2 separate regions of the Homo sapiens genome follow, and region 2 is linked to region 1. The links come from fine-mapping of genetic effects on gene expression. A gene starts in region 1. The other region holds a variant in brackets. All regions are shown on one strand. Distances are from middle to middle. Region 1 holds the start of CNTNAP1 (contactin associated protein 1). Region 2 overlaps LINC00671 (long intergenic non-protein coding RNA 671).

Region 1 (9,217 bases):
TGCGGCTCTGTATAGGAAGGGGTTAACTCAGGCGCTAGGCGGCCGGGGCGGGGCCGCGGCCTCCGCGGGCGCGCGCGCGCGTTGCTGACTCAGCGGCGATTCCAGAGATCTTGGATGGAGGGTTCCAGGTCGGTCCCCAGTGGCTGGCGTGTGGGACCCTTTGAGGATCGGCGCCGTCTCCGGGCCTTCCCTGGATCCTGGCCCCTAGAGGCCGTGGGGGACCCCTTTTCGCCGCTGCTGCGGGAGGCTCTGAGGACTGCTAGCCTGGGCAGGGCTGGGCTGGGCGGGGAGGGGCGGGGAAGGGCGGGACGGGCGGGGCCGTCAGGCCAGCACCTCCCTTGAGACCTCCTCGCCACGCCCCGCCCTTCTCGACCCTAGACTCCAGGCTGGAGCGGTGGGGACAGCTTTGCTGACCGATATTAAACCGCGAGAACTGTCGCACGTGAACACCATCCTGCCCGTTGTGATTGTGTAAAACAAAGACCAGGAATCAATGCGAGCGTGTCTAGGAGGCCATCTCGGCCGTGGCCTCTCTCCACATGAGAGTGGCCTGTACTGAGAGATTACCTAGGAATGGAGATACCACAACCATCTTCCAGGTCTGGATCCCAGGCCCTTGCCTGCAGAGAAGTTTTTTCCCATATCCAACCTCTCTCTTTCCGGCCAGCTCAGTGCATTTCCTCTGACCCAGTCCCCAGAGAAGATGGAGAACAGCAAATATCCCTCACCCCCACCACACCCGTGATAACTACTCTGGAAATTTGCAGATTGCAATCCCTCCTAGGTTTTTCTTCAAGGTGGAAAAACTTCAACTCAAATTTTACAATTCATTTTTTCATTTTTTCTTTCCATCACAGACACTAGGAAGGGATTGTAAAGTGGTTATGAAATCCAAACGCCCACCAAAAACGGGAATCCCCTGCCCCTCCCCCTCCCCCCACACCACGCAAAGGCCCACAGCGTCCCCGACAGTCTGAACATTCCAATAGCGGGAACTCAGTATTTGCTAAGGCAGCCATTACTGGAGAGCGCTCTGGTTGTTAGAAAGCTCTTCCTTACAGTATTGCAAGAGGAACCACCGCCCCTCCTTGCCTGGCAGCTTTCCCACCTCACCTCTGTTGGCTGAGGCCAGGTGACGGTGGAGGGGGTGTCAGTGGCTAGAGCTTTAGCAGACTCAGCAGCCCCCCACCCCCACCCAGGCCCTCAGCGTCTTCCACTCAGAGAGCCAAGCGCGGGGCAGGGCGGGGGGTGGGGCGGGGGCGGGGTGTTAACCCACCGGTTCTGCCCCGCCACAAATCACTTCCAAGTCGGTGACTCAAAAATAGTAACAGTTGTTGGGTTGCATCTCATTTCCATGTTATCAATTTAATGTGGCAAGGCACAGAGGTAGTCCCTTTAGGTCCCTGCCTCTTTCTCAGTGTTCCCCCACCTACTCCCCTTTCCCACGACCCTCAGCCTGCCCCCTCCTCTAGATTCGCAGCCCTAGTTGTCCCAGGAGAGACTGTGGGTCTCCGTGGGAGCTGAGCAGGAAGAAAGGCGGGGCCGGCGGGGGCAGCCGCGGCGGGGTTGAGGCCCTGAGGGGCAGCTCCCACCCCGTAGCAGCCTCCGCAGGTCCTGGCGGAAGCGCAGGCCCAGGAAGGCGTAGAGAACGGGATTGAGGCCACAGCGGGCGAGGGCCAAGCCGCTGGTCACCAGCAGTGCGACATCCTTGCGTTTGCTGGCAGGGCAGCTCCGCTCGCGCGCAGCCAGTAGATCGGCAGTATCCAGCAGCAGGGCGAGGCTGTAGGGCAGCTGCAGCACCACGAAGGCCGCCACCAGAGCCACCACGACGCGCAGCGCACGCCGGCGCTCGGGCCCCCTGGCGGCCAGCAGCGTGCGGCCCAGAAGCGCGTAGCAGGCTACCATGACGCCCAGCGGCAGCGCGAAGCCCAGGGCCACCTGCGCCACGGCGCTCGCCCCCTTCACCGTCTGCGTGAGGCCCTCGGGGAAGATGAGGCGACAGCGTCGTTGGCCTTCCCGCTGCCCATCCTGGCTGAAGAGCAGCGCAGGCAGCGCCAGGAGCAGTGACAGCAGCCACACGATGACGGAGACCAAGTGTGCGCGGCCGGGAGTGGAGGGCCGCGGCCCGGCTGGGAGCGCTCGCGCGATGGCCACGTAGCGGTCGGCGCTGATACAGGCCAGGAAGAGGAAGCCGGCGTGGAAGGAGGCCGAGTAGAGGCCAGAGATGGTGCGGCAGGTGGCACTTCCCAGACTCCAGCCCTGAAGAGCCCCTGCTGCCGCGAAGGGCAGAGTCAGGGCCAGCAAGAGGTCGGCCAGGGCCAGCTGGAGCAGGTGGGCAGAGGTGGGCGAGCGCGCTGCGCGTCGGGCTGCCAGGTGGGTGGCCAGGACCAGGCCATTGCCGGCCAGACCCAGCGCAGCCACGGTCAGGGAGACACTGGGTTGGAAGGCCCGGCTGAAGGCCTGGACATCGGCCTTGTAGCAAAGCTCCGGCAGTGGCTCAGCCGAGTATGCGTCCTCTTCATCCCCAGAGTAATGGCCCCAGGAAACCTGGGAGGGTCAAATGAGAGGCGGGATCTTATGAGACACATCTGACCACACAACTCCCCCGCCCACACTTGCCTTCCAAGCTGAGAGCTCCTGTGTGGCCAGATGTAACAGTACACGGGGAGACATAAGCTCTTCTCCAGACTCTTCCTAGCACACCTTCAGCAGGCCTTGGCTTCCCTTGCACCCCTCCTACCTCTGCTTCCAGCTTCCTGGGTGACCTTGAGCAAGCCACTTGCTCTTTCTAGACCTCAGTTACCTAACCTGTAATGTTGAGATTATAAATCCTGACCAGCCCACCTCTCAAGGTTTGCTGTGAAGATGGCAATATGGAAAATAATGGATGGGGAGAACCTGTGTTCTCCAAAGGCCATAATACAAAGTTTGTATTATTATTATTATTTATTATTATTATTATTGGAGACAGAGTCTTGCTCTGTCGCCCAGGCTGGAGTGCAGTGGCACGATCTCGGCTCACTGCAACCTCCGCCTCCGGGTTCAAGAGATTCTCCTGCCTCAGCCTCCCAAGTAGCTGGGACTACAGGCGCCCACCACCACGCCCAGCTAATTTTTGTATTTTTAGTAGAGATGGGGTTTCACCATGTTGGCCAGGATGGTCTCGAACTCCTGACCTCAGGTGATCCGCCCACCTTGGCCTCCCAAAGTACTGGGATTACAGGCCTGAGCTACCACGCCCAGCCCAAAGTTTGTATTATTAATAAATCCTACAGCTTCAGTTCCCTTTGCAGCGCCCTCTCCTGGAAGGATGCCCATATGCAGGCTTTGCCTCAGACCTGAGCCCTGGACTCCAACCTCCGTCTGGAGTGGGTTTCTGTTTCTCTTCTTTCCCTTCCATACCCACCTTCCCTGTACCTCCAATACCAGCACACTGAACCACTCATGCCAAGGGGGTCTCCAGGGTTGGGACTCAGGTTTTCAGGGCCCAGGTGGGACCCTGGACCTCTAGGTTCAACCCGCCTTTCCCCTCAGCCCTAGTCCCTGTCCCACAACCCCAGCCTCACACCACCAGCCCATTTATCTGGAGGACCCCTAGTCTGAGACAGCGCCAAGAATCCTGAATAAGCCATAGGATGGCAGAGGCCCATTGCCAGGTGGGGAATCCCATTCCTTCCCTGTCTCCTCCCTCTCTGTAACCCTTCTCCCCCTCCCTGCCCCCACTCCCACCTGCTCTGTGGCCTCCGTCCCCATCTCTGGCTACACAGGTTTCTGAGGTATAGCCACAGGGGGTAGAAGTTAAACTACTAGCGGGACAGGAAGGAAGAGGCGGGGAGAGGGGCCGAGAGGGAGGTGGGGATTAGGGTCTACGGGGTCACTTTCCCATTCCACCTCCTCCAAAAGACTTCACTCTCTTGTGCAGGATCTGGATTTTACGAAAAAAAAAAAAAGAAGAAGAAAGGAAGGAAAGAGGAAAGAAAGAAAGAAAGAAAGAAAAAAAGGAAGGAAAGAAAGAAAAAAGAATGAACGAAAGAAAGAAAAAATAATTTACTGTCTTTGTCAGTGAAGAAAGAACGGGCTTCGGAATATAATCATTTGCTGTGTGATATTGACTAAGTTTCTTGACCTCTCTGAGCCTGAGGTTTTTCATCTGCAAAGTGGAGTAGGGCAAAAATGCTAAATTCACAGTGCCCAGCACCACTCCTAGAGCATAATTTGCCTTCCGAAAATGTTAAGATTCTTTTACTTACCCTTCATTCCATTTCCAGGCACCCCTCCCCCAAACCACCTCCCTTTTCTTGAAATTTTCAGGATGCTTCTGGCCCTAGGTTCCCTGTCCTCACTCCTGTGGCCCTAGTCCCGGGCAGCCTCGGGTTACTTGGGGTTTTCCCGGTGGCGAGAGGCTCTCTACCCCCGCCCTTTCGCAGCAGGGCTGAGGCACGCGCTTGCGCGGGGTCCGGGAAACCGGCGCGTGCCAGGAGACAGAGGCTGGGGAAGGGGGGAGGTGAGAGGAAAGAGGGTGGAAAGGAGAGGATAGAGAGAGAAGAGCGGAGGACCAGGAACCAGAGAGAGAGAGAGAGAAAAGAGAGAGGAGAGACAGAGCGCTTGGGGGCGAAAGGAGAGAGGGAGGGAAGGGTGGGTAAGGAGGAGAGAGCGGTCTGCTGCAAACCCCAGGAGGAGAGCTTGGAGCCCAAGCCAGAACTCGAGCCCTAGCCGGAGCCGTTCACAGGGAGGCGGCTGCCGGGACCGTCAGCCCTGCATGATGCATCTCCGGCTCTTCTGCATCCTGCTCGCCGCGGTCTCAGGAGCCGAGGGCTGGGGCTACTGTGAGTGTTGGGCTTGGAGGCAGGTGGGGTTGGGCCCAGGAGTCCAGAGCCTGCAGGGCGGCCCCGAACCGCATTGCGGCTGGGTGGTCGCGGGTCCTTCCCGGCCGGCGCGCGCCCGCTGGCTCTCATCTTTTCCTGCCTCTCCCCCGCGCTCCGCATTGCAGCTCTGAGGCTGCCGCGCGCGCCCGGGGCTGGGGCTGGGCTCTGGGAAGAGGATGAAGTCAGCGGGCAGGGATTTGGGGTTGGGATCCAAGCAGGAGCTGGTGCCTGGGTTTGAGGCTAGGGCTGGGGGATAAGTGTATACTGGTGACCGATACTAGGATTAAGGTTTTGCCAGGGCTTAAGGCTGGACTTTGGAGCTGGCCAAGGGGTGGGGTTTGTGGCTAGGGCTGGGGTTTGTGGCTGGGGCTGGGTTTTGTGGCAGGGATCCAAGCAGGAGCTGGTGCCCCTGACTGATGCTAAGGCTGGACATGGAGCTGGTGATGGTGCTAGCACTGGCTGAGGTTGGGTGCAAGGCCTGTATTTGGGGATGGTGCAGGTTTTGGGGGCCGAGTTGGATTGAGGCTAGGGTTGGAGCTGGATTGGTGTCTTGGGTTGACTTAGGTTGTGGAAGATGCTGAGGTTTAGGATTGAGTTTGGGAAAGTACTAAACCAGGGCAGGTATTGGGCTAGCTAGGGAGGGTCTGGCCTTGGGCCTATAGGTGTAGCCTAGGGGTTTGCCTAGAAGGAGAAGGTAGCCTCCTCTGAGCATGCAGCTGTTGCTGCAGCCAGGATTGAATAGATGGCTTTAAGGTAGGGCTGGGTGTGCCTCTGGGGGCGGGGGTTGGGGGCACGGAAGGGGAAGCTTCGGTCGCTAAGTGGGCCGGCCTTTGGAAGGGTCTGGGAGGGGCCAGCGCTGACTAACAGTCGGTTTCCCTACCCTAGACGGCTGCGACGAGGAGCTGGTGGGTCCCCTGTATGCACGCTCCCTGGGCGCCTCCTCCTACTACAGTCTCCTTACTGCGCCGAGATTCGCCAGGCTGCACGGTGAGCTCCGCGGAACATCAGCTGCCAACTGGCAGCGCACCGCGGAAGGGTGGGGGCCTCCGGAGGACTTCGGGGAGAGGGATAGCCGGTTAAAGCTCCTGTCCTTTCTATAGGCATAAGCGGGTGGTCACCACGGATTGGGGATCCGAATCCCTGGCTCCAGATAGACTTAATGAAGAAGCACCGGATCCGGGCCGTGGCCACACAGGGCTCCTTTAATTCTTGGGACTGGGTCACACGTTACATGCTACTCTACGGCGACCGAGTGGACAGCTGGACACCGTTCTACCAGCGAGGGCACAACTCGGTACTCTGGGCGCCAAGGCGGTAACACTTGGGGAGCTTCCTCTGCTCCAGGCTCTGGGCCGGGCACCAGCCTCTGGGAAAATGGAGGGGGTGGTGGTGAGGGCTCGGACAAGGAGCAGTGACTCCACTCCAGGGACTCTGTCCAGAGGGACTGTCAGCTTAGGACGTGCGCGAAACACTCGGTTCACAGGGTTTAACACACTTTAGGGTAAAACCTGGGAGAGCTTCCTAAGGAGGTGACATTTGATTTCAGGTCTGAGGAAATAATAGGATTGTGGGACAGGGCACTTTATGGAAACTGTGCGGGCAAAGCCGCCAAGCAGGGAAGACCAAGGAGTGTTTACTTTCCAGAAGTCGAGATTGGCTGGGTGTGAAAGTTGTGGGCTGGGAGGCTATGGAGAAAGAAGCAGAGGGGGGCCGGGCGCAGTGGCTCACGCCTGTAATCCCAGCACTTTGGGAGGCCGAGGCAGGTGGATCACGAGGTCAGGAGTTCATGACCAGCCTGGCCAACATGGTGAAACCCCGTCTCTATGAAAAATACAAAAAAATCAGCCGGGCGTAGTGGCGGGCGCCTGTAATCCCAGCTACTTGGGAGGCTGAGGAAGAGAATTGTTTGAACCCGGGAGGCAGAGGTTGCGGTGAGCCGAGATCGTACCACCGCACTCCAGCCTGGGCGACAGAGCGAGACTCTGTCTCAAAAAATAAAATAAAAAAAAGAAGCAGAGGGCAGGACGTGGTTACTACTCTCCTCCACCCCCGCAGACCTTCTTTGGTAACGTGAACGAGTCGGCGGTGGTGCGCCATGACCTGCACTTCCACTTCACTGCGCGCTACATCCGCATCGTGCCCCTGGCCTGGAACCCACGCGGCAAGATCGGCCTGAGGCTCGGCCTCTATGGCTGCCCATACAGTAAGTGTGCAGAGAGCGCGGAGGGGGCCTGGGAGACAGCCTCCCCAGTTCCCGGCCCACCTACGGTCCTTTGCGCAGAGGCCGACATACTCTATTTCGACGGCGACGATGCCATCTCCTACCGCTTCCCGCGAGGGGTCAGCCGAAGCCTGTGGGACGTGTTCGCCTTCAGCTTCAAGACCGAGGAGAAGGACGGTCTTCTGCTGCACGCCGAGGGCGCCCAGGGCGACTACGTGACGCTCGAGCTGGAGGGGGCACACCTGCTGCTGCACATGAGCCTGGGTGAGCTCGGCGACCATGTGCGATGCGGAGCCAACCCCTGAAGCTCTCTCACCGCCCTCCTCGTGGCACCTCCTCCGCGCATCCGCGCTCAGCCTGGTCTTCCACTTCTCTAAGGCCTGGACCAAACTGCCCCTTTCTTGTAGCATTTGGTGCTAGCAAAACACTGGAGTTGAGTGAGAACTGGATTCCAGTCTCAGCTCTACCACTACACAGAGATGTGACCTCGGATGGGGCACTTCCGAGCCTCAGTTCCCTCCTTGTAAACACACACACACAGACGCACACACATTGTATCTCATTAGCTTTTCATAACACCCGCACATGAAATAGAAGCAGCTCATGTGTTCCCAGTTTTACAGACAGGAAGCCAGGCTAAATGGCTTACCCTGTCACACACTCGCCAATGGCTGTTGATCTATTCGCCCACTCTCCCTGATTGCCCTGGGCTTTGTTACACGCTGCTGCTCTGCCTAGGAGCTTGGACTCCATGGAGTTCTCCTGGCTTGAGGTTTCACTCTGTCCTGCCCCACCCTCAGGCAGCAGCCCTATCCAGCCAAGACCAGGTCACACCACCGTGAGCGCAGGCGGAGTCCTCAATGACCAGCACTGGCACTATGTGCGGGTGGACCGATTTGGCCGCGATGTAAATTTCACCCTGGACGGCTATGTGCAGCGCTTTATTCTCAATGGAGACTTCGAGAGGCTGAACCTGGACACTGAGGTGAGAGACTAGGGAGGTGCTATTTCGTGGTAGGGTAGATGCTGGATGAGTGAGTGCAGGTCGGTCTCTCCCTTTCTCTTTTCCTCTGTCTCTCAGAGGAAAGACCTGGCATTCAGGCTGTGGGTGGTGGCTCATGCCTGTAATCCCAGCACTTTGGGAGGCTGAGGTGGGAGGATTGCTTGAGGCCAGGTGTTCAAGACTCACCTGGGCAACATAGTGACATCCTACCTCTATTTAAAAAAATTTTTTTTTTCAAAGACCTCGCATTCCAATTCCTGAATATCCTAGCAGCCCTTGGCAAACTTGCCACTCACCAGAAAAAGGCCTGTTTTTTTTTTTTTTTTTTTTTTTTGTGGGTGTTGTTGCTGTTAGCATGCAGACTCCCAGGCACTATTTCAGAACTAATGAGATGGGGTTTGGAAATTCAGATTTTGGGGACTAGGCAAGGTAGGAAAATTGTTCCCTTGGATCCTCCCACAACTTTGTGGAGTTGTTAAAGACCCTGACCCCATCTGCAGATAAGAATCCCAGGCAGGCTAATTGACTTGCCCAAGGGCGTGCAGCCGATTTGTGTTGGAGTCAGAGCTTGAACTCAAGCCTTGAAAGGCCTAGCGAGCTTTAGTACCGACACTGGGGAAATGTGTGTTTTAAGTCTTTTACAAAACCCCATCTGGCATTTGGGAAAGCATACGGCGGGGACGCGCGAGAAAGGCAGGCGCCCTCCTGTGCCCAAGAGGCCTCATTCCCCACGCCTCCCGCAGATGTTCATCGGAGGTCTGGTGGGCGCCGCGCGGAAGAACCTGGCCTATCGGCATAACTTCCGCGGCTGCATAGAAAACGTAATCTTCAACCGCGTCAACATCGCAGACCTGGCCGTGCGGCGCCATTCCCGGATCACCTTCGAGGCCAGTGGGCAGGGGGGTCTGGGAGGACAGGATATCAAAGCGTCGTGGAAAGCAAAGAGGTGGAGCGGGAAGAGATATTGAACATCAGATAAAAGCGGAGAATCCCTCTGTCCCCAGCCAGATGCTCAAGTTGGGAGGGGAGCGGGTCTCACCTGAGGTGCATGAGCCACGCAGGCCCCTAGTTAAGAAGCAGTGGTCGGGTCCAATCACCTTCTTAGTTCATAGATGAAGAAAGTAAGGC
Region 2 (9,217 bases), 210 kb after region 1:
CCATGATCTCGGCTCATTGCAACCTCTGCTTCCCGGGCTTAAGCGATTCTTGAGCCTCAGCCTCCCAAATGGCTGGGACTACAGGCACGCACCACCATCCCCAGCAAATTTTTGTATTTTTAGTAGAAATGGGGTTTCGCCATGTTGCCCAGGCTGGTCTCAAACTCCTGAGCTCAGGCATTCCATCTGCCTTGGCCTCCCAAAGTGCTAGGATTACAAGCATGAGCCACAGTACCCAGCCCCTTATGCCTCTTAACTTTACATCTCCGGGTCAGAATATGATGGGGAATTCTCCCTTTCTCGAGGACCTCCAAGGAATGTGATGTCTGTCACTCCCAATTCTCCTATTGAGAAGGAAAAGCCAGTACAGGACAGAATACTCTGGGCCAGATAATTTCCATCTTTGTTTCACTTAATCCGCATAACAACCTTGAAAGGCAGATGTTAATTACACCCATTTCACAGATGCAGAAACTACAATTCAGAGAGATTAGGAAACATGCCCACAGTCATCTGGCTGGTAAAAGGTGGGGCTGGGAGTGAACCCAGATCTTTGCAGAATTACACCTCACGGCCTTCCCTGGGCCGTGGCTCTTTTTCCACTGCCTGGTAGGCCTGTTTGAAGAATTAAACAAGGTATCAGACTCATCTGAATATTGTAAGAAAAAAAAAAAGAATGAAACAAGGTAATGCTTGAGAAACCCTTGGCACCTGATCCATATTAAGTGACCCTCTCAGAGCAAAGTCATCACTCAAATGACAAGGGCAGAAATATGCAGAGCTGCTTTTCACAAAGGTGCTCAACCTTGACTGCACATTGAAATCACCTGGGAAGCTTGTAAAACTCCACATACTCGGACTGCGCCTCAGCCTGATATGATCAGAGCCTCTGGGGGCAAACCACAGACATGACTGGCTTTTAAATTTCCCCGGGTGATTCTACTGTGTAGCCAAGGTTGGGAGAACTCTGGAGATGGTAGTTCAGTTCCAAGCCTCCCAAGAGGAAGCTGACTAGAGAGTCTAAGACATAAAGAATGTGTCCATCAGAAGGTGCAGAAAGGGGCCAGGCACAGTGTCTCACCTATAATTCCAGCACTTTGGGAGGCTGAGGCAGGCAGATCACTTGAGTCCAGGAGTTCGAGACCAGCCTGGCAACATGGCAAAACCCTCTCTCTACAAAAATACCAAAAAAAAAAAAAAAAATTAGCCAGGATGGTGACATGCACCTGTGGTCCCAGCTACTAGGGAGGCTGAGGTGGGAGGATCATTTGAGCCTGGGAGGCAGAGGCTGCAGTTAGCCAAGATCATGCCACTGCACTACAGCCTGGGCGACAGAGTGAGAAGACCCCGTCTCCCTCAGAAAGAGAGCATCACAGAGCCTGCCCTGACAGTGACAATCAGCCACATTTGGAGCAGAGGACCTGGCCAGGGCCAGGACACGTCCTGTCCTAGAGGCACTTTAGCCATGCACATGGAGTCATCGGGCCTTATTGAAGCTATATTGTGACCAACTGCTGGTTCTGATTCCCAGCTCGACAGGCCAGCTTCCCACCACATCATGGTGATGGGAAGAAAATGGACACATCACTTACATCTCTTTTTGTAAATGAACTAATTGACATTCTAATAAGAATTACTTTTGCTTTGACAGTTACAGTAAATCAACAGATTGACCTTCAGGTGTAATTTTGGTATATATAGACCTTCCCTGAAAGACAATTCCCATTGGTGAGCTGAGGAATCTGGTTTCTGATTCAGGCTTCTCCCTTGGAGTGGGGTGAATTCACCAATAAACCATCTTGAGATATCTTGGGAGATGTCAGCCAGCCTCATCTGATGCAACCAGCCTAGCCACGGACTTCACGTCTAACTTTCAGAGCAGAGACTCCATGTCAGCAAATTCCTCGCCTCCTTCCCTCCTCTCCTATAGTTTTGGCTTTTTGTATTGTTTTGTTTTTGTTGTTGTTTTGTTTTGTTTTTGTTTTTGTTTTTGAGACAGAGTCTCACTCTGTCACCCAGGCTGGAATGCAGTGGCGCGATCTTGGTTCACTGCAACCTCCGCCTCCAGGTTGAAGTGATTCTCCTGCCTCAGCTTATTGAGTAGCTGGGATTACAGGCGCCCGCCACCACGCTCAGCTAATTTTTGTATTTTTAATGGAGATGGGGTTTCACCATGTTGTTCAGGCTGGTCTCGAACTCCTGACCCCAGGTGATCTACCCACCTTAGCCTCCCAAAGTGCTGGGATTACAGGCTTGAGCCACTGTGCCCAGCCTGTTTGTTTTCTGAGACAAGGTGTTTCTGTGTCACCCAGACTGGAGTGCAGTGGTTCAATCTTGGCTCACTGCAGCCTAAACCTCCTGGGCTCAAGTGATCCTCCCAACTCAGCCTCCTGAGTAGCTGGGACTATAAACGCATGCCACCACCACTGGCTTTTTTTTTTTTTTTCAACAGGGTCTCGCTCCATCACTCAGGCTGGAGTGCAGTGGTGCGATCACAGCTCACTGCAGCCTCAGCCTCCCAGGCCCAAGCAATCCTCCTGCCTCAGCCTCCTGAGTCACTGGGATTACAAGTGTGCACCACCATACCCAGATAATTTTTAAATATTTTGTAGAGACAGAGTCTCCTTATGTTGCCCAGGCTGGTCTTGAACCTTGAGCTCAATGGATCTTCCTGCCTTGGCCTCTGAAAGCACTGGGTTTATAGGTGTGAGCAACTATGCCTGGCCCCCTCCTATAGTTTTTCCCTGGCCAATATCCCTCTTATAAATCCACAGAGCTTCTCACTCTCTGCAGGGAATATTAGGTCATTCACATACCTGGGTTCAGTCCCTACACCGCAGTCATCGTGATGCTTACACCCCAGACACCCCAGACGTGTGTCCTCCTTCAAACAGCCTATTCCCACCCACTAAGCCTCTGCCCATGTGTTCCGACTCCTCCCTCCCTTCCTTCCTCTGCTTCCTTCCTCTTTCCTCTTCCTTCTCCATCTAGTGACAGCTTATTCACTGTCTAAAACCCAACTCGAATCCCACTCTCTCGACCTTTCCCTGAACAACATTATTTACTTTGTTGTCTCTGCTCCCATAGTACTTTGGACAGAACTCTGCCATGGAGGTTCACAAACTGAACTCTAGTTCCTTGACCACGTGTGTCCTCCCCTCACTCCCCACACTGAACCTGGCTTTGGTGGCCTGGTGCCCAGCATGGTGTTGTGCCCGTGTGTGGATGCTTAAATACATCTTTGAAATTTGAATAAATAGTAAACATTGTTATACATGAGTCATGTTTTTCTCTTTAAAAGCCACATCATATCCATTTGCTCATTGGACTACTTCAAAAGAGAAGCTCTAAGGACATCCAAAGATCCTAAGTGAAAAATCACCCTGGCTGCACGGGTCAAGCCAGGACACAGGGCCAAAGGTCGGTCAGCACTGACACGCTGAGCCCAGGCGTTTGCTTTCCAGATGAGACCTGCACCGCTGGACCAGCAATGCAGCAGAGGCAGCAGGAAGAGGGAGATGGAGCCAAAGGGTTTCTGGACAGGCGGTTGCTGGCAGATCTATAAATCGATGCCCCACAATGGGCTGTCACTGAAACAGGCCAGGAGTAGCCCAGAGCCTGGAGGTAGACCTGAGAGGGCAGGGTGTGGGAAGATTAGAAGCATAGGCTAGGCCAGGCACAGCGGATCGTGCCTGTAATCCCAGCACTTTGGGAGGCCGAGGCAGGTGGATCACCTGAGGTCAGGAGGTCAAGACCAGCCTGGACAACATGGTGAAACCCATCTCTACTAAAAATATAAAAAAAAATTAGCTGGGCATGGTGGCACATGCCTGTAATCCCAGCTACTCGGGAGGCTGAGCCAGGAGAATCACTTGAACCTGAGAGGCGGAGTCTGCAGTGAGCCAAGATCGCGCCATTGCACTCCAGCCTGGGCAACAAGAGGAAAACGCTGTCTCAAAAAAAAAAAAAAAAAAAGCATAGGCTAGAAATTGGACCACAAAATAATATAGAATTTGACATGTGGGTGAAGATGGGTGTTTTGGGGGCTGCAAATCAGTCATGTTCTCCTCAATCTGCGTAAGCAGAGGCAATGCGGTATAGTGGTTTACAGTGTGGCTTCTGGAACTAGGTTCCTGGGGTTTGGATCCAGCACATGTGACACATGTGACCTTGAACAAGTTATTTAACTTCTCTGGACTTCACTTTCCTCACTTGTAAAAGGGGAACAGTAATAAAATCTACCTCAGGATTTTTATGAAAATTAAATTAGTAAATCCATGTAATTTTTCTTTTTTTTTTTTTTTGAAATGGAGTCTCGTTCTGTCACCCAGGCTTGAGTGCAGTGGCATGATCTCGGCTCACTGCAAGCTCTGCTTCCCAGGTTCATGCCATTCTTCTGCCTCAGCCTCCGGAGTAGCTGGGACTACAGGCGCCCACCACCACACCTGGCTAATTTTTTGTATTTTTAGTAGAGACGGGGTTTCACCATGTTAGCCAG[G/A]ATGGTCTCAATCTCCTGACCTCATGATCCGCCCGCCTTGGCCTCCCAAAGTGCTGGGATTACAGGCGTGAGCCACCGTGTCTGGCCCATGTAATTTTTCAGAACAAGTCCCTAGCTTATAGTAAATGCTCAATGAATGTGAGCTATTATTTAATATTTTATTAAGTAGCATCTATGAGGTATTGAAGTGACTGTGTAAGGAAACCACGGTAGCTCACATCTATAATCCCCATACTTTGGGAGGCCGATGCAGGAGGATTCCTTGAGCCCAGGAGTTCAAGACCAGCATGGACACTCCAGTAAGACCCTGTTTCTACCAAAGAAATTTTGTTAAGTTAGCCGGGTGTGGTAGCAAGCACTTGTAGTCCTGGCTACTTGGGAGGCTGAGGCAGGATGATCTCTTGAGCTCAGGAATTCAGGGCTGCAGTGAGCTATGATGGATTGCACCATTGCACTCTGGCCTAGGCAGCAGAGCAAAACACTGTCTCTAAAAAAAAAAAATAGAAGGAAAGAAAAAGGAAACCACCCGAAAACATAGTGGCTTAAAACAACAAACCAATACCTTGCTCACAGTTCTGTAGGTCAGCAACCTGGCTCAGGCTCTGTTGGGCAGTTCTGCCAGATTCTCCTGGGATTGCTCCATGGATCACTCACATGGACTGGGGCTGGGTGGTCTAAGGCGGCCTCACTCTCAGCGCTGGTGACTGGGGGTGGCTGTCAGACAGGCCCCATGTTGTAGTAACCTGTCTCCAGGAGGCTGCCCGGACTTCTCCCCCTTGTGAGCTGGGGTTCCAATTGTAGCCCAAAGAGGGTAAGCCCTGGCTTTTCAAGCTTTTGCTTAGATCACATTTGTTTTTTGTTGTTTGTTTGTTTTTCTGAGACAGTCTCACTCTGTCACCCAGGCTGGAGTGCAGTGGCGCGATCTCAGCCCACGGCAATCTCCGCCTCCCAGGTTCAAGCAATTCTCCTCCCTCAGCCTCTTGAGTAGCTGGGACTGCAGGTCCCCGCCACCAGAGCCGGCTAATTTTCGTATTTTTAGTAGAGACAGGGTTTCACCATGTTGGCCAGGCTGGTCTTGAACTCCTGACCTCAAGTGATCTGCCCGCCTCGGCCTCCCCAAAGTGCTGGGATTATGGGTGTGGGCCACCACACCTGGCCTACTTATATCACATTTGTTAATGTCCCATTAGCCAAGGCAAGTCACAAGATCAAGCCCAGATTCAAAGGATGAAGACATTTACATCTTGATGGGAAGAGAGGCAAAGTCACAATGCAAAAGAGCACACGTCAGGGATGGGAGCATTTTCACAGCCGTGCGAACAGTGTACTATACTGGGCACCAGACATGTAAGCAGAGCTCAGTTCTGGAGGCTGGAAGGAATGCTTTCTTGGCCCTCGGGGCTCAGGATAGCAGGTTAAGATGCAAGCAAAACCATTATGATGCAAGGTCTGAATGCGATAAGTGCCCCAACGTAGGAGTTCAAACCAGACAGATCTTTTGCAGCTAATGAGGGGTGGAGGTCAATGGGTTGAGAAGGCTTTATTTTCTTGACCTTGAAGTGTGGTTAGAATCTGGTCATACAGACATGGGGAAAATGATATTCCAGGTGGAGGAAAAAGCAAAGTTGGAAAAACCAAGGCATGTTTGGGAAATCCAAACTTATCTAATATATCTGGTGTGTGGCCATCAAGGGGAACTGCACAGCATAAAACTAGAAAGATAAGCTGGGGTCCAATGCAGGTGAGCTTGTGTTTGAACTTCAGTTTGAACTTCATTCTGTAGGCAATGGGGAGCCACTGAATATTTTTCAGGTGACAAGTGAAAAGAACTGTATTGTAAGAAGACTCCTTGGCCTGTATTCTATAGGATGGCTTGGGGTGGGGAGCAAGAAGAGGAGAGGTGATCACAGGTAATGAAGGGACTGTGGGCGGGCGGCGGGGAGGGGGCGGGCCTAGGCAATGGGGTTGGCCCGGGGCAGCACGAGTAGAAAGTATCTGGACAGATCCTGATGAGTGACTGCAAATGTGACATGAAGAGGTGTCAAGGTTGGCTCCGAAGTTGCCAGGCTCACTGCCCAGAGGATGGCAGAGAGCAGGAGATTCATTTACAAAGCAGGGGAGTCTGAGCAACAACAGGTGTGAAGGGACCCTATGGATGTGGGGACTGTATGGGACATCCAGGTGGTGTCCAACCAAGGTCTAACGTCATGCTAAGGAAGGAGGAGGAAGAGAAAGGAGAGGAGACTTTGTCAAAGCAACACTGAACACAGTGTTTCAAGGTGCTTAACAGTCAAGTATTAGATGTGGCCAAATGATTAAGGAAGAAGAAAGATGAGTAGAGGCCAACCAGCTGATTTGACAATGAGGAGGTCACAGGTGACTTCCTAGGAGAGCAGAGGAGGCTGAAGTCCCCAGGCTTTCTTTTCTTTTTTTCTTTTTTTTTTTTTGAGACGGAGTCTCGCTCTGTCGCCCAGGCTGGAGTGCAGTGGTGCGATTTTGGCTCACTGCAAGCTCTGCCTCCTGGGTTCACGCCAATCTCCTGCCTCAGCCTCCCTAGTAGCTGGGACTACAGGCGCCCGCCACCATGCCCAGCTAATTTTTTGTGTTTTTAGTAGAGACGGGGTTTCACCGTGTTAGCCAGGATGGTCTTGATCTCCTGACCTCATGATCCACCCGCCTCGGCCTCCCAAAGTGCCCAGGGTTTCTTTTTTTATTTTATTTTATTTTATTTTTTTGAGACAGAGTCTCACTCTGTCCCCAGGCTGGAGTGCAGTGGTGTGATCTCGGCTTACTGCAACCTCCGCTTTCTGGGTTCAAGGTATTCTCTTGCCTCAGCCTCTTGAGTAGCTGGGACTACAGGGCATGCCACCATACCCAGCTAATTTTTGCATTTTTAGTAGAGACGGGGTTTCACCATGTTGGCCAGGATGGCCTCCGTCTCCTGACCTCGTGATCCGCCCACCTCGGCCTCCCAAACTGCTAGGATTAGAGGCGCGAGCCACTGCACCTGGCCCCCAGGCTTTATTTTTATTTGTTAGTTTGTCTCACTCTGTCACCCAGGCTAGAGTGCAGTGGTGGGATCTCAGCTCATTGCAACCTCTGCCTCCTGGCTCAAGTGGTTCTCCCACCTCAGCCTCTCAAGTAGCTGGGACTACAGGCACATACAACCACACCCAGCTAATTTTTTTTAGGGGGTTTTTTGTGGGTTTAATTTTTGTGGGTTTCTTTTTTCTTTTTTTTTTTTCTTTTTGTAGAGGTGGGGTTTTGCCATGTAACTGAGGCTGGTCCAAGCTTTATTTTTTATATTTTATTTATTTTAATTTAAATTTTGTATGGAATGCTTCACGAATTTCACGACTTGTGCAGGGCCCACACTAATCTTCCCTGTACCACTGCAATTTTAGTATATGTGCTGCCAAAGCGATGACTGAAGTCCCCAGGCTTTGAGGAGGGAGCAACAGGCATCCTGCTTTCTGGGATTCGAAGTTGGAGAGAACCCCTAGACTTACATGACCCTCTCTTTCCACTTCACACCCACTAGAGTGAATGAAATGTTAAAAATAAACACTGCTGTTCCCTTCCACCCTAAAGAAGAGAGGCACGCTAGACTCTCCCTGCTCCTCTCCCTGTCTCTCTGGCCTGCTGGCTGGAGATCAGGCACCACCAGGCAGACAGGCGCTGGCGGGACAGGCGGCTGTTTACTGCTAGTAGAGTACTGCTGTGTTTTCACAGCTCAGAATAGCTCTATAGCCACCCCCAGGCCTGGGGACCTAGGAGCCTCACTGTTTATTTTCATGACAATTCTGGGCCTCACCTCTTCCCTTCTCTGAGTCAAGGTCCTCATTTGAGAACTCTCAGAGGGGGTAAGGTGTGGGTTAAAGGGTCCAAGACTACTAATTTCCTAATTATCTGTCCCAGCTGGCTCTGGAAGAGGGGAGGACGAATAACTGACTGTACAACACGGGCGTTTTGGTTGGGATGGAATTTCCCCTGCTTTTAAAGAAAGAGTTGATTAAAGGACTGCATGGCCAGAGCCGGTGGGGAGGAAAACGTGGGAATGAAAGAGGGTAGAAGGGATGACCCCATCTGGATTGCGACAGGTTCTGTGTGAGGAGCTTTCACTAGAGAATTATGGGGGCTTCTCTGACTCATGGTGCCCCTCAAATCAGGCTGGGTTCTGGCTGCCCTGGTGTTTAAAAGGTATTCAGAGGTAGGGGAAGACTGGCTTCACAGAATACTCTTTTGAACTCTGAATTTTTTTAATAATGTGAGTGTATTACTTTTGAAAATATTTTAGGCTCACTCCTGTAATCCCAGAACTTTGGGAGGCCGAGGCGGGTAGATCGCCTGAGTTTGGGAGTTCGAGACTAGCCTGGCCAATGTGGTGAAACCCCATCTCTACTGAAAAAAAAACAAAAATTAGTCAGGCCCTGGTGGCCTGTGCCTGTAGTCCTGGCTACTCAAGTGGCTGAGGCACAAGAATCACTTGAACCCGGGAGGAGGAGGTTCCAATGAGCCAAGATTGTGCCCCTGTACTCCAGCCTGGGTAACAGAGTGAGACCCTGTCTCAAAAAAAAAAAAAAAAAAAAAGGCCAAGCATAGTGACTCACACCTGTAATCCCAGCACTTTGGGAGGCCGAGATGGATGGATCATCTGAGCTCAGGAGTTCAAAAACAACCTGGGCAACATGGTGAAACCCCATCTCTACTAAAAATGCA

Evidence for each region.
Region 2: its variant is fine-mapped to the expression of CNTNAP1 in whole blood (TOPMed, PIP above 0.99).

Annotation. Positions count from the first base shown.
Region 1 is chr17:42,678,071-42,687,287 of GRCh38, forward strand. It overlaps CNTNAP1 (contactin associated protein 1), which reads left to right and starts at 4,461. Exons shown (of 24, transcript NM_003632.3): 1 at 4,461-4,826; 2 at 5,751-5,852; 3 at 5,966-6,159; 4 at 6,921-7,068; 5 at 7,147-7,350; 6 at 7,887-8,071; 7 at 8,833-8,976. The coding sequence starts at 4,760. CCR10 (C-C motif chemokine receptor 10) reads right to left here and starts at 3,773. Exons shown (of 2, transcript NM_016602.3): 1 at 3,730-3,773; 2 at 819-2,547. The coding sequence starts at 3,753. The coding sequence ends at 1,483. RefSeq lists enhancers at 1,078-1,926, 1,927-2,775, 3,994-4,612, 4,556-4,605, 4,866-4,915 and 2 more and silencers at 1-44, 395-484, 3,161-3,455, 5,701-5,995.
Region 2 is chr17:42,883,514-42,892,730 of GRCh38, forward strand. It overlaps LINC00671 (long intergenic non-protein coding RNA 671), which reads right to left. Exons shown (of 6, transcript NR_027254.1): 3 at 1,082-1,173. It also overlaps the pseudogene RNU6-287P. Among named protein-coding and RNA genes, the nearest start is that of LINC00671, 11 kb to the right of the region's middle. The variant G/A (reference allele first, on the strand shown) is at 4,499.